Linked DNA regions of Homo sapiens: region 1 is linked to region 2. Evidence: fine-mapped QTL for protein levels in blood plasma. A gene starts in region 2. The other region holds a variant in brackets. All regions are shown on one strand. Distances are from middle to middle.

Region 1 (5,362 bases), 29 kb after region 2:
TTTATTGAGCACCTGCTATGTGCCAGGTACTGCTGCAGGAGCTGGGAGGGAAGGCTGACAATAAACATACATAAAATAGGCATATTAGCTGTGCTGTCCAATACAATAGCCATTACCTGCAAGTGGCTATTAACATTTATGTTTACATGAATTAAAATTAAATAAAATTTAAAATTCAGGTCCTCAGTCACATTTCAAGTGCTCAGCAGACACAGGTGACTGCTAGCTACTGTACTAGCTCAGTTACAGGACACCCTCCTCATGGCAGAAAGTCCTGTTGGCCAGTGCTGATGATGGCGTTGGAGGGAAGGGTGGTTTGAAGTGCCGGGTTTAAATGAGGTGGTCAGGGCAGGCCTCCCTAAGGAAGCGGACTTTGAGCAGGGTCCTGTGGCAGGAGAGGGAGGGAGCCATGTGAGGGAAGGCAGTTCCAGGGGAGTCTGAGGAAAGGGTGTTCCAGGCAGAGGAATCAGCAGGTGCAAAGGTCTTGAGGTGGAATCTCAACTGGGATGCCTGGGGAAGGAGCTGAAAGGAGGCCACTGTGGCAGGAGTAGGAGCAGGGAGTCAGGCAGAGGCCAACACTGGAGGGAATGGCCTCCCATGGAAGGCCCTGTCAGCCATCTGGAGTGCAGTGGTGCGTTCAAGGCTTGCTGCAGCCTTGACCTCCTGGGCACGAGCAATCCTTTTAGCTGGGCATGGTGGCTCATACCTATAATCCCAGCACTTTGGGAAGCAGAGGCAGTGAGGACTGTGGCTGTTACTGTGGGTAGGAGAACGCCCTGGGAGAGTGGTGAGTAGAGCAGGGACAGGGATGATTTATGTTTTGTCAAGGTACGTCTGGCTGCTGTGTGAAAATAGCTTGTTGGGGAGGAAGAGTGGAAGCGGGAGGCCAGTGAGGGTTCCCCACTGTTGCAGGTGAGAGAGGATGGCAGCTTGGCCCCAGGAAGGCAGTGGAGGTGGGGAGAAGGGGCCAGATTCTGGAGGTGTCGGGAGGCAGGACCCACAGGGTTCCTTGAAGACTGAATGTGGGAAGGGAGAGTGGAGGGAGGGAGCCCAGGGTGACTAGTTTCTGGGTTGATCCCCTGGAAGGAGGGGGTGGCCCTCACGGTGATGTGGGGGAGGGATCTTCCTTCCAGGTGCCTGCATTGCCTCTTACTTAGTGGGGATAAGAAGGGTCACAGCTTTGAAGTGGGCTATGTGTGATGGCGCCCCACACCATCCCTCGCAAATGTTCAGGAACTCAGACATTTATTCCTATTAACTAACCAGGCCTTGTTTACAGAACAGCGGCTGGGACTTCCAAGCCTCAGCAAGCGGGGAGCCTCCATGAGCTGCTTTCTAAACCCTTGACCTTGAGGATTAGGGACATCTCAAACTTGCTCTCAGCCCAGAAACCCACTGTTCAAGTAGGGCTGCACATGGAAACCCCATGAGCAGAGGAGAAACGGCAGAAGTTTCCAGATGGAGTCGTTTGTCAATTCGCATCACCTTCGGTATCCTGGGGACAGGGGGATGAGAGAGGTGGCCCCAGAGCAGGGGCCTGAATCTAGGATTTCACCTCCTAGCCCAGGACTCCCTCTTCCTCCTTCCCTAAGCTGAGCTGGGGTGGTGAGGACTCCCGGGGCTGGGAATCTGCCCCTCTGGGCCAGGGGACCCTGTTAGGTTGCAGCAGCCAGGAGGGACAGGGTGGGGGCCAGGGGATTGACAGCCACAATGTTCCTGGGTGACCTGCACGTTGCCAGGCGTCTTTCCAGGGCGATAATCTCTCCTGAGAAGAGGAAAGAATTCTAATTACATCTCAGGACAATATTTGTTTGGGGAGACGGGAGACAGAACATATGGTGGGGAGGGGCGCTGGGCCACATGAAGTGGGGATGTTTTCTCATTTACCTGGTGGGATGGAGGATGACGGATGGGGCAGGGCTCCTGCTGGGCCAGGGGAACCGTATGCCCTGGGCTGTGGTGGAGAGCTGGGCTCTGCATGGGGCAGGAGGCAGGAGTGGCTCCCACCTCACCCTGGGTGCCCTGAGATGGTGGAGAATTCCGTACCCATTCCATCCGCCGAGCAGCTGCTCTGCGCCCGCAACTGCCAGCGGCAGGAGCTCTGTGTCCCTGTCCTCCTGGAGCTGCCGCAGGCAACAGGGCAGGGCAGGAGGTGGGGGACCTTCTCGGGATCCTCAAGGAGGACCTTTCGGGGGGTGACATTTGAGCTGATCTTTGCCAGATCTGAAGGAGCCAGCCGGGCAAAGAGGGGTGGAGGGAAGGGCATTCCAGAAGGAGAACAGCCAGAGCAAGAGTGAGGCCAGAAAGGGAGGCGTGTCCACAGGACAGGGAGGAAGCCAGGGGAATGGGTGCTGATCCCCATACCTGGGGTCCCAGGGGAGGGTTCTAAGCAGGGGAGAGGCCACATCTGATTTGGTTTTGCAAAGATGGCGCTGGCCGCTGTACATGGATGCTGGAGTAACTCAGGAGGGGAACTGAGCTGGGTTACTGGAAGAACCTGGAAGAGCTGATGGAAGCGGCAGCTCCTCCCTGGCCTTCTTGCTGTCCACATCCAGCCCAGGCCTTCTCTGATCCCTGGCATGTTCTCCCACAGCGCCCGGCTGCTGGTGTGGCTCCAGGGCCGACACCTACTCCCTCATCGCCATCTCATGTTGGCTGCTGCACACACCCTTGGCCTGCCTTGCTGAGCTTCTTGGGTGCCCAGCTGAAGCCAGACCACTCCCACCAGCGGGCTTGCAGGTCACCCCACCCCCTCCACCCATCCCCCGCCGTGCAGGGCCAGCTGTTCCTACGTTCTCCACCTCCTTCACCCACTAGCCCCGTGGTTTCCTGAGCCCCGCCATTCTTCCCCCTGTTTCTTGCACAGCCCTGTTCACAGAGACACCCCATGACATGACAGCACGGACGGGCGAGGACGTGGAGATGGCCTGCTCCTTCCGCGGCAGCGGCTCCCCCTCCTACTCGCTGGAGATCCAGTGGTGGTATGTACGGAGCCACCGGGACTGGACCGACAAGCAGG[C/T]GTGGGCCTCGAACCAGGTAATGCCCCTGGGGAGATGCCCAAGCTGGGCTGGGGAAGTCCTGGTCCCTGGGGTAGGGGTATTTCTCTGCCCCTCTTCTCCTCTGAGGGATATGGGCTCCAACGCTGTTCTCCACACCACACAGCTGTCTCCCTCCCTTCTTCCTCCTGGGGTGGGGGTTTTAGGTGATCATGGAGGCTTATTTGGGGGAACGGGCAGGAGGCAGAGCTAGGCTGAGCACGTGAAATGGCCACAGCAAGGAGGGCCTTCCAGGGCACAGAGGGCCTCCCTTCGGGGTACAGGTGAGGAAACTGAGGCCAGAGGGACAAGCTGGCTTCAGGTTATGGAGCAAGGTGGGTCTTGTGACTCACTTCCCACCACTTCTCCGGGCCACACGGGCAGCCTTTTTATAAAGAGCTCTGCAAATGCTGAGTTCACTCACAGGCACACACGCATACGTGCACCAGGCTCCCAGCACACCCTTGGCTGCACATGTGCTCACCCCTCTACACGTGCATGCTCGTATGTACACACCTGTAGAGCAGATGCTGTGGGGGCTCTGCCCCATGCCTGGTGTGCAGCGTGCTCTGGGACCAGCCAACTGCCAGCTCCTCTGGCTCTGCTTGAGGGTTTTCTCTGGACACAAGAGCCTGCTGGCCATCAAGGCAAGCAGGAGGAGCAGGGGACTCAATAGGCAGGAGCAGCCCCCACCAATGACCCGCAAAGTTGGAGGATGAATGCCTCAGCTCCCTCGCCCTTAGCTGGGACAACCGAAGCATATTCTTCACTGTTTCACCAAGTGCCCAGTGGGACGAAGCTCCAATTGCCTACTGTGGTAACTAACCAACAACATACCCCCCATTATTAACTTTCTTCCCTTTTTCGTTTCACTCACCTTCTCCCCTACTTGTGTTTCCTGGGATCACCTCCCAAATAAACTACTTGACCTTTGTCTCAAGGTCAGCTCTTGGAGGAACTCCATCTGAATCATTTGCATCCTTACACATATGTATACACTAATGAACACGCAAACATAGAGATCTGCCCACCCATTCGTATATGAACACATATATCTGCACACATTCACAAACACGCATTGGCACACTCATACACTCCCCATGTTCATGAAAGAGTGTCTCACATGTGCCCAAGGGCATATCAAACTTTGTCTTGCTCCTGGGGGTGTCAGCTCCCTGACACTTCCAGCCCTGCCACATGCAGGCTTAGAGGACTTCAGTGGCCAGAGAAAGCCCTTAGGCAAATCGTTGCAGGTATCTGCGGTTGGAAGCTTCCAGGGTCAGTTTGCAAAGGTGGGGAATGTGGGCAGGGTTCCCACAGCGTCTGCACAGACGTTCACATGGGTGACACACCTGAAGGTACAAACACACTCTCAGAGTGACTCAAGGGTACAAACATGCTCCTAGCAACATACCAAGCCAATGCTTAGATTTCTGCCTGTTCACACTCCCTCCAATATATACCAAAGCACCCTTGTGTATCTAAATGCACAAATGTGGTCAGTTTTCTACATACCTCCATTATCTTCTTTTGCTCTGACCTCACCTCCTCCCCTGAGTGGATACAGAAAGGGACCCCAACTCCAGACTCCATGGCCCCCGAGCCTCATCTGCTGTCGTGAGAATCTTAGCGGTTGTCCGTATCCCTATAATGTGTCTCCCCACACTGCCACCCCACCCCCACCCTGTGCTAACACCTTGTCTCTGCTCTCTCCGCCCCTCCCCGATCCCAACAGCTAAAAGCATCTCAGCAGGAAGACGCAGGGAAGGAGGCAACCAAAATAAGTGTGAGTTTTGATAATGACTTCTCGAAAGGGCTCTAATGGAGGGCACAGCTGTGACTTAAAAAAAAATTGGGGTCCAGTTCAGCAGGGAGCTTGGGCAAGAAGATGGAAGAGAAGAAAAAGAGAAGGGAAAAAAATGGCCTTGCTCTGTTTTTTAAAAGCCGGAGATTTTTCAAGTTCATTCAATGATGGGCACAAAAAATGACAGGGGAGAGAAGATGCATTTTCTCCTGTCAGGGCCAAGGCTGTGTGCATCCTGGTGCCTTCGTGCTTGTCTCAGCAGCATTTTTTATTTGGGGAACCAATGAGGTCTGATGAGCCTGAGCCAGCTTTTTTTGGCCTATCATGACTGACTGAGTGTTACGCCATCTCAGGGTCACTTGGTGATCTGGCCCCGGGGACGGGGTGGGGGCACCCTAGCCAAAGGATTTCAGGACTGGCCAGGCCTTCTTATTTATTGACTCATTTGTCAATAGCCACACTCTGTAAGAAGGGCCAAGCATTCACCCATTTTGCAGGTGGGGCAGCTGAGGCTCAGGAGGTC
Region 2 (5,362 bases):
CAAATGGCAGGATTCAAAACAGAGAATATGGCTCTAGAGCCCACACTTCTAACCACACCATCCTACCCTACCTGGCCTGGTGGTTCTGAGGATTAAGGGGAATAATGAAAGTTCTTAGGGCCATGCTGGGCATACAGTGATGAGCCAACAGAGGCTTGGGGACTGGGAGAAGGCAGCAGGCATTTCTTCCCATGGGGACTCAGGCTGGACCTCGCCCAACTGGGGACTCAGCTAGACAGAGGGGAAGGCATACAAGCACAGGGGAAGCACTGGGAAGGTTGAAGATGTAATGAGGCCAAGGCATGCCCAAGAGAGCACAGGATATGTGCAGGAGGTGAGTCTGGGACCCTGAATGCAAACTAGAGAAGTCAGGATTTCTCACATAAACAGGCCATCAGAGGGTTTTTTTAGCAGAACCATTATATCATGAGCATTTTCTTCTTTTTTCCTTTTTTTTTTGAGATGAAGTCTCACTCTGTCACCCAGGCTGGAGTACAATGGTGTGATCTTGGCTCACTGAAAACTCCGCCTCCCAGGTTCAAGCGATTCTCCTGCCTCAGCCTCCTGAGTAGCTGGGATTACAGGTGCCCACCACCACTCCTGGCTAATTTTTGTATTTTTAGTAGAGATGGGATTTCACCATGTTGGTCAGGCTGGTCTCGAACTCCTGACCTCGTGATATGCCCACCTCGGCCTCTCAAAGTGCTGGCATTACAGGCGTGAGCCACCACACCTGGCCGATCACGAGCATTTTCAAAGGCATACAATCCCTGGATGTCTGTCCTTGAAGGAACCTTGACCTTGTTCCAGGCTTCAAAGAGAAAAGATTTCTGAAGGTCAGCCGGTGGGCTAGGGGCACAGCAGCAATGTGCTGCCATCCCGCCAGACCCCCTTCCTCTGCAGGCCTGAGCAATCTCTTGTTTACTCCTCTTTAATCTCCTCTCCCTCCCTGTCCCCTTGCCTGTGTCTGCTCCCTCCAATCTGTGGTTTAAGAGGAGAAAGCCCGGGTTTGAGTCCCAGTTCTGTCACCACAGTCTCCTGGTGAGGCCTCAGGCTGGGGTTGAAGGAGTCCTGGGTTTTAGTCTGGCTAACATGGTGGCTGCTATGTGATCTGGAGGATTCTCAGTTTCCATATCTTTATGATGGAAGCAGTAGTTCATTTCGCTGGGAGCGGGGTTCAGGGTAGTTAATGAATGAGAAAACACGTGCATAGAGTCCAAGACGCCTGGCCAGCCCAGGATAACCTAAACACCACCTCTGTGTGGGAAGAAAGTGAGAAGTGAGAGAATCAGGCAAACACGGCCCCTTCCTCCAAGGCATGTGGTCCAGAAGGTTCGGGGGGTGGGGGAAGCGGTCGACGCTTGGGACCTGTCCTCGGTACTGAAGGGAGCGCGGGGGCTGTGGACGGTGCTAGAACACAGTGCTTGTAAGTGCGGGACATCGTGGAGGAGGTGTCCTTAGTTTGGAAGGAGCTGGATTGTTGCTGGCTACCACGGGCCCCATCCGGTGTGCTACCCCCCCCCCATAATACTGGAAGGGGGGCGCTAAGACAGAGGGAAGACGGCGAGGGGCTATGTTCCTTGGTCTCTAACCTTGTTCTCAAACTTGGGCGCTGTACACACGGCTGGACGCGGGATCCACCTGTGTTCTGGAGTGGGGAGTGGGCTGTCGGAGGGGTTGACCCTGTTCGACGGGGACGGGGAAGAAAGTCTGAGGGTCTGTCCACGGTGTGAACCCTAGCATCAAAGGGCCAGTTGAGACGCTGTCCACGGTGCCCAAAGGATGGGCCCGGGTGGGGCGGGGGGCGGGGGGCGGGGGGGGGGCTGGCGCTGTCCTCCTCCGTGGTGCTGAAACCGGGAGGACCAGGCTGTGTGAGCAGGGAGGCCTGGGGAAGGGCAAGGGATGAGAGCAGGAGGGACCCCGCCCAGGAGTCAGGGGCCTCGCCCGACTCGCCGTGGGACCTCAGAGAAGCTAATTACCTGATTTCAGGCGCTTCCTTATCTTTTAAATGGGACCACAGTTCCGCCCTCCTGTCTGTCCCATCAGCCCCAGTAACACGGCTTGGGAAGGAACTGGAGGACTTTGTTGGATTCTTGCTCTTGGGAATGGGAATGGTGCCCTATCCCCCTCCCCTGCCACACTCACACACACATACACCCACGCATACGCGCGCGCACACGCACACGCACACACACACTCATGCACACACACACCATCAAGGCTCATTGGTCTAGGGAAGGAGCCTACAGTCCAGAAGGGGGCGATCCCATCCACCACATAAGGTCCAGTATCTTCAAGAGCCAGGAGCCGCAACAACTAACTGGCCTGTCTCTCTCCCATTACAAAGACTCGAAAACTGAGTCCCAGAAAGGGGAACACCGACAATAATAACTACTGAGCTCCTACCACGTAGGCAGCATTATGCTAAGCGCTTTGCATGCACGATTTCGCAAATCCTCACCAGGACCCCCGCAGACAGCTATTACCCCTATTTCTCAGATGAAGACTTCGAGGTTCAGAGAGGGGTAGACACCCGGACGCGATCACACAGCGAGCCGAGGTCGGCGGCAGAGCTATCACCAGGTCCCCTGGGTCTCAGCCCAGGCTCCCACCCTACCTCGCCCTCACCCCCAGCCCCACTGGCCCCTGACCCCGGCCCCGCCCTGCCGGTAAAGTTAGGAGCCTCTGAGTGCGCTGGCCTGGCGGCGGGTGCCCTGGCTTTTCTCCCTCTCCCCGCTGGACGGCATTTCTGTGGCTGAAGCCCGTTGGGTCGTGCTTTGCGGGAACCGCGTCCCTGGGGTGGCTCTCTCCGCCCCATCCCGGCCCCGCCTCCGCACTCGGGCGGGGGAAAGTTGCGGGTACCGCTTTAAAAATCCCAGCCTGGGCAAAACTTTGATGATAAATCAAGCGGCAGATCCCTCCGCCGCCTGCTCCGAGCGGGAGGAGGGAGGGGAGGAGGGAGGGGAGGAGGGAGGCGGGAGGAGGGAGGAGGGTGCGGCGGCGGCGCGGCGTGGCCTTCCGCGGAAGGGAAGAGTCCCGCAGTCGGAGGCGGCCGGCTGGGCGTGCGCTCGCTCCCCGAAGCCGGGGCTGGGCCGGAGCCGGGCGAGGGCTGGGAGCTGGGCCGGGTCCGGGGACAGCGGGCGAGGGGCAGCTGCCGGAGCCGGGCAGCCAGGCCGCTCAGGGCAGGGGACAGCTGGCGCCGGTTCTGCGGTCTCCGGGGCCCAGATGTGAGGCGGCGGCGCCCCCGGCCCGAGAGCGCACGATGGGGGCCCCGCTCGCCGTAGCGCTGGGCGCCCTCCACTACCTGGCACTTTTCCTGCAACTCGGCGGCGCCACGCGGCCCGCCGGCCACGCGCCCTGGGACAACCACGTCTCCGGCCACGGTGAGTTCGGTCGCCGCCCCCGCGGACTTCCCCACCAAACCCCAACCCGGGCCGCGCCACTCCAACTTGGCCGCCCCGGGGCTCGAACCGGCGCCAGTCGTGGCGGGCATCCCGGGGCGCCCCCTGCCGGCGCGGTGGACCCGCCCTGGCACCCTGGCCCTGCAGAGAAGGGGGCACCCGGGGCGCACCCCCGAACCTCCTCCCCACACACTCGCGCGGATACGCACACCTGCATGGCCACACCGATATGCACAGCCGCGGACACACTCAGAGCCACAGTCGCTGCTTTCTCACACTCACAACTCCTACCCTGCACATCTCCACACACCTCAGGTCCCCCTCCTCACTGCAAGCCTTTACACTTATGCCCACTACACACGCACATCAGGCACTGCGCCGGTGGGCTCACTCTGCCAGCTGGCGCACACGCTTCGCCACAACTCTTGCCTGCCCACCTGCAGACACACTGGTGCGCGCGCGCGCACACACACACAGGCACACACATACACACACATGAACACAATTTGCTCACCCACTCCTCTCTGCCCATCTGCCTTTACTCTTCTGGGTTTAACCGCACAGAGGCCCTTGTCCTCTTCCTCTCCACACCCAGCCCTATACCACTGGAAAGGTCCTTGGGGGCAGAAGACCTTGTTTCTTGAGAACTGGTCGCCTGGGGCTGCAGCCTCCCAGTTGGGCGGGTGGCACCTGGTGGAAGCCCCTCAGAGCCACCGGAGTAGTTGGGGTTGCTGCTTGCAGCCAGAGGCATGGGAGTGGGAGTGGAAGTGGAATGCCGGGTGCTTTTGTCTGCCTCTGGGGATGGGCAGGAAGCCGTGCCATCCTTCCATAGGGTACCCCCATCCTCATCCTCGGCCCTAGAGGACTGAAATGTGGGAAATCTCAACTCCAGCCGCTGTGGAAGCCGGGGAGCAGACAAGCATTCCCAGCACTGGCTGGCTGAGTGTCAGAAGCTCCTGCTAGCCCCGAAGGAGCCCAAGTTGGCAGCAGAGTTGGACTGTATGAGCCCGGCAGCTGTGGGGGCTCCCCCTGACCCCTGTGAGCCTGGCTCTGGGATGGAGGCTCGAGCATAGATGAAACCAAAGGAGACCTTTCTTCCATGCAGCCCTTCACTAGACAGGCTGACAGCCTTGTTGGGGAGGCTGCAGCCCCAGTGCTGGGCACTGTGGGCCCAGGGCTGTGGGGAGGTTTGCACAAAGGCCAGATAATTGGATGATTTATTCTGATGGGAGTGAGTGGGGGTAAGGCAGGGTAGATAATCAGGGAAGGTTTTGCTGGGGTATGACACATGAGTGGGATTGCTCCAGTGGAGAGGGGGGCTTCGAAGCCATCCTCAGGGTCTCTGCTTTTTGGGAACCATGACTCCCCGCCCCCTTCTGCCTCACCATGTTTGGTAGTAACTGCTGTGTGCATCATTTACATACCCTTCATGCCCCTCACCTCATTTCTACCGACCTGGCTAGAGCGGTGGTAAATAAGGAAAGGGTTCTTTTGATCCTCAACTTACAGATAGGGAAACCAAGGCTCAGAGAGGTGAAGGAAGTTGCCCAAGGTCACACAGTAAGAGAGTGACTGAGCCAGGACAGGCCCCAGGGTCTGTCAGGCAAAGACAGCGCTTTTTTCCAGGACATTCATCTCCCTGTCAGATTCCCTCCCATTCTAGGGAAACTGGGAATTCCTCCCTCTCCACCCCTCCTCTCCTCGCTCCGCTCAGTCCCTTGGCACAGTTGGAACTTACACTAGGAGGGGTTTCCATGGAGGGCCTTCCCTGAGTTTGCAGTCCCGAGGGGTATGAGGAATGGGACTCTGAGGCTTATGGTCGTTCTGTCCCTAGAGCACCAGACCCCAGGGACTTGGGTGCCAGTCTGTTATTCCCAAGGCCCCAAGGTGGCTCCCCCCCATAGAAAAGCAGGGTCTGTCTGCCCTTTGTGTGACAGTCTCTACCTGTCCCCTGGTGCCAG

Which allele goes with the higher level. Positions count from the first base shown, and alleles are read on the strand shown. Strength reflects both the effect of a copy and how common the allele is.
For the plasma level of the protein whose gene starts at base 3,039 in region 2, T is the high allele of the variant in region 1 and C is the other (weak association).

What was found. PIP is the posterior inclusion probability: the model's chance that the variant is causal. The UK Biobank Pharma Proteomics Project read protein levels with antibody pairs (Olink). The fine-mapping took linkage between variants from a reference panel, not from the people measured, so its PIPs are less certain.
Region 1: its variant is fine-mapped to the plasma level of the VSTM2L protein (UK Biobank, PIP above 0.99). The variant lies in the coding sequence of VSTM2L. If it changes the protein, the assay may bind it differently, which can mimic a change of level.

The regions. Positions count from the first base shown.
Region 1 is chr20:37,928,769-37,934,130 of GRCh38, forward strand. It overlaps VSTM2L (V-set and transmembrane domain containing 2 like), which reads left to right. Exons shown (of 4, transcript NM_080607.3): 2 at 2,867-3,036; 3 at 4,771-4,821. Among named protein-coding and RNA genes, the nearest start is that of VSTM2L, 28 kb to the left of the region's middle. The variant C/T (reference allele first, on the strand shown) is at 3,020.
Region 2 is chr20:37,900,089-37,905,450 of GRCh38, forward strand. VSTM2L (V-set and transmembrane domain containing 2 like) reads left to right here and starts at 3,039. Exons shown (of 4, transcript NM_080607.3): 1 at 3,039-3,383. The coding sequence starts at 3,263. The region is part of intron 2 of LOC124904896 (a long non-coding RNA gene); the gene reads right to left. RefSeq lists an enhancer at 2,339-3,302.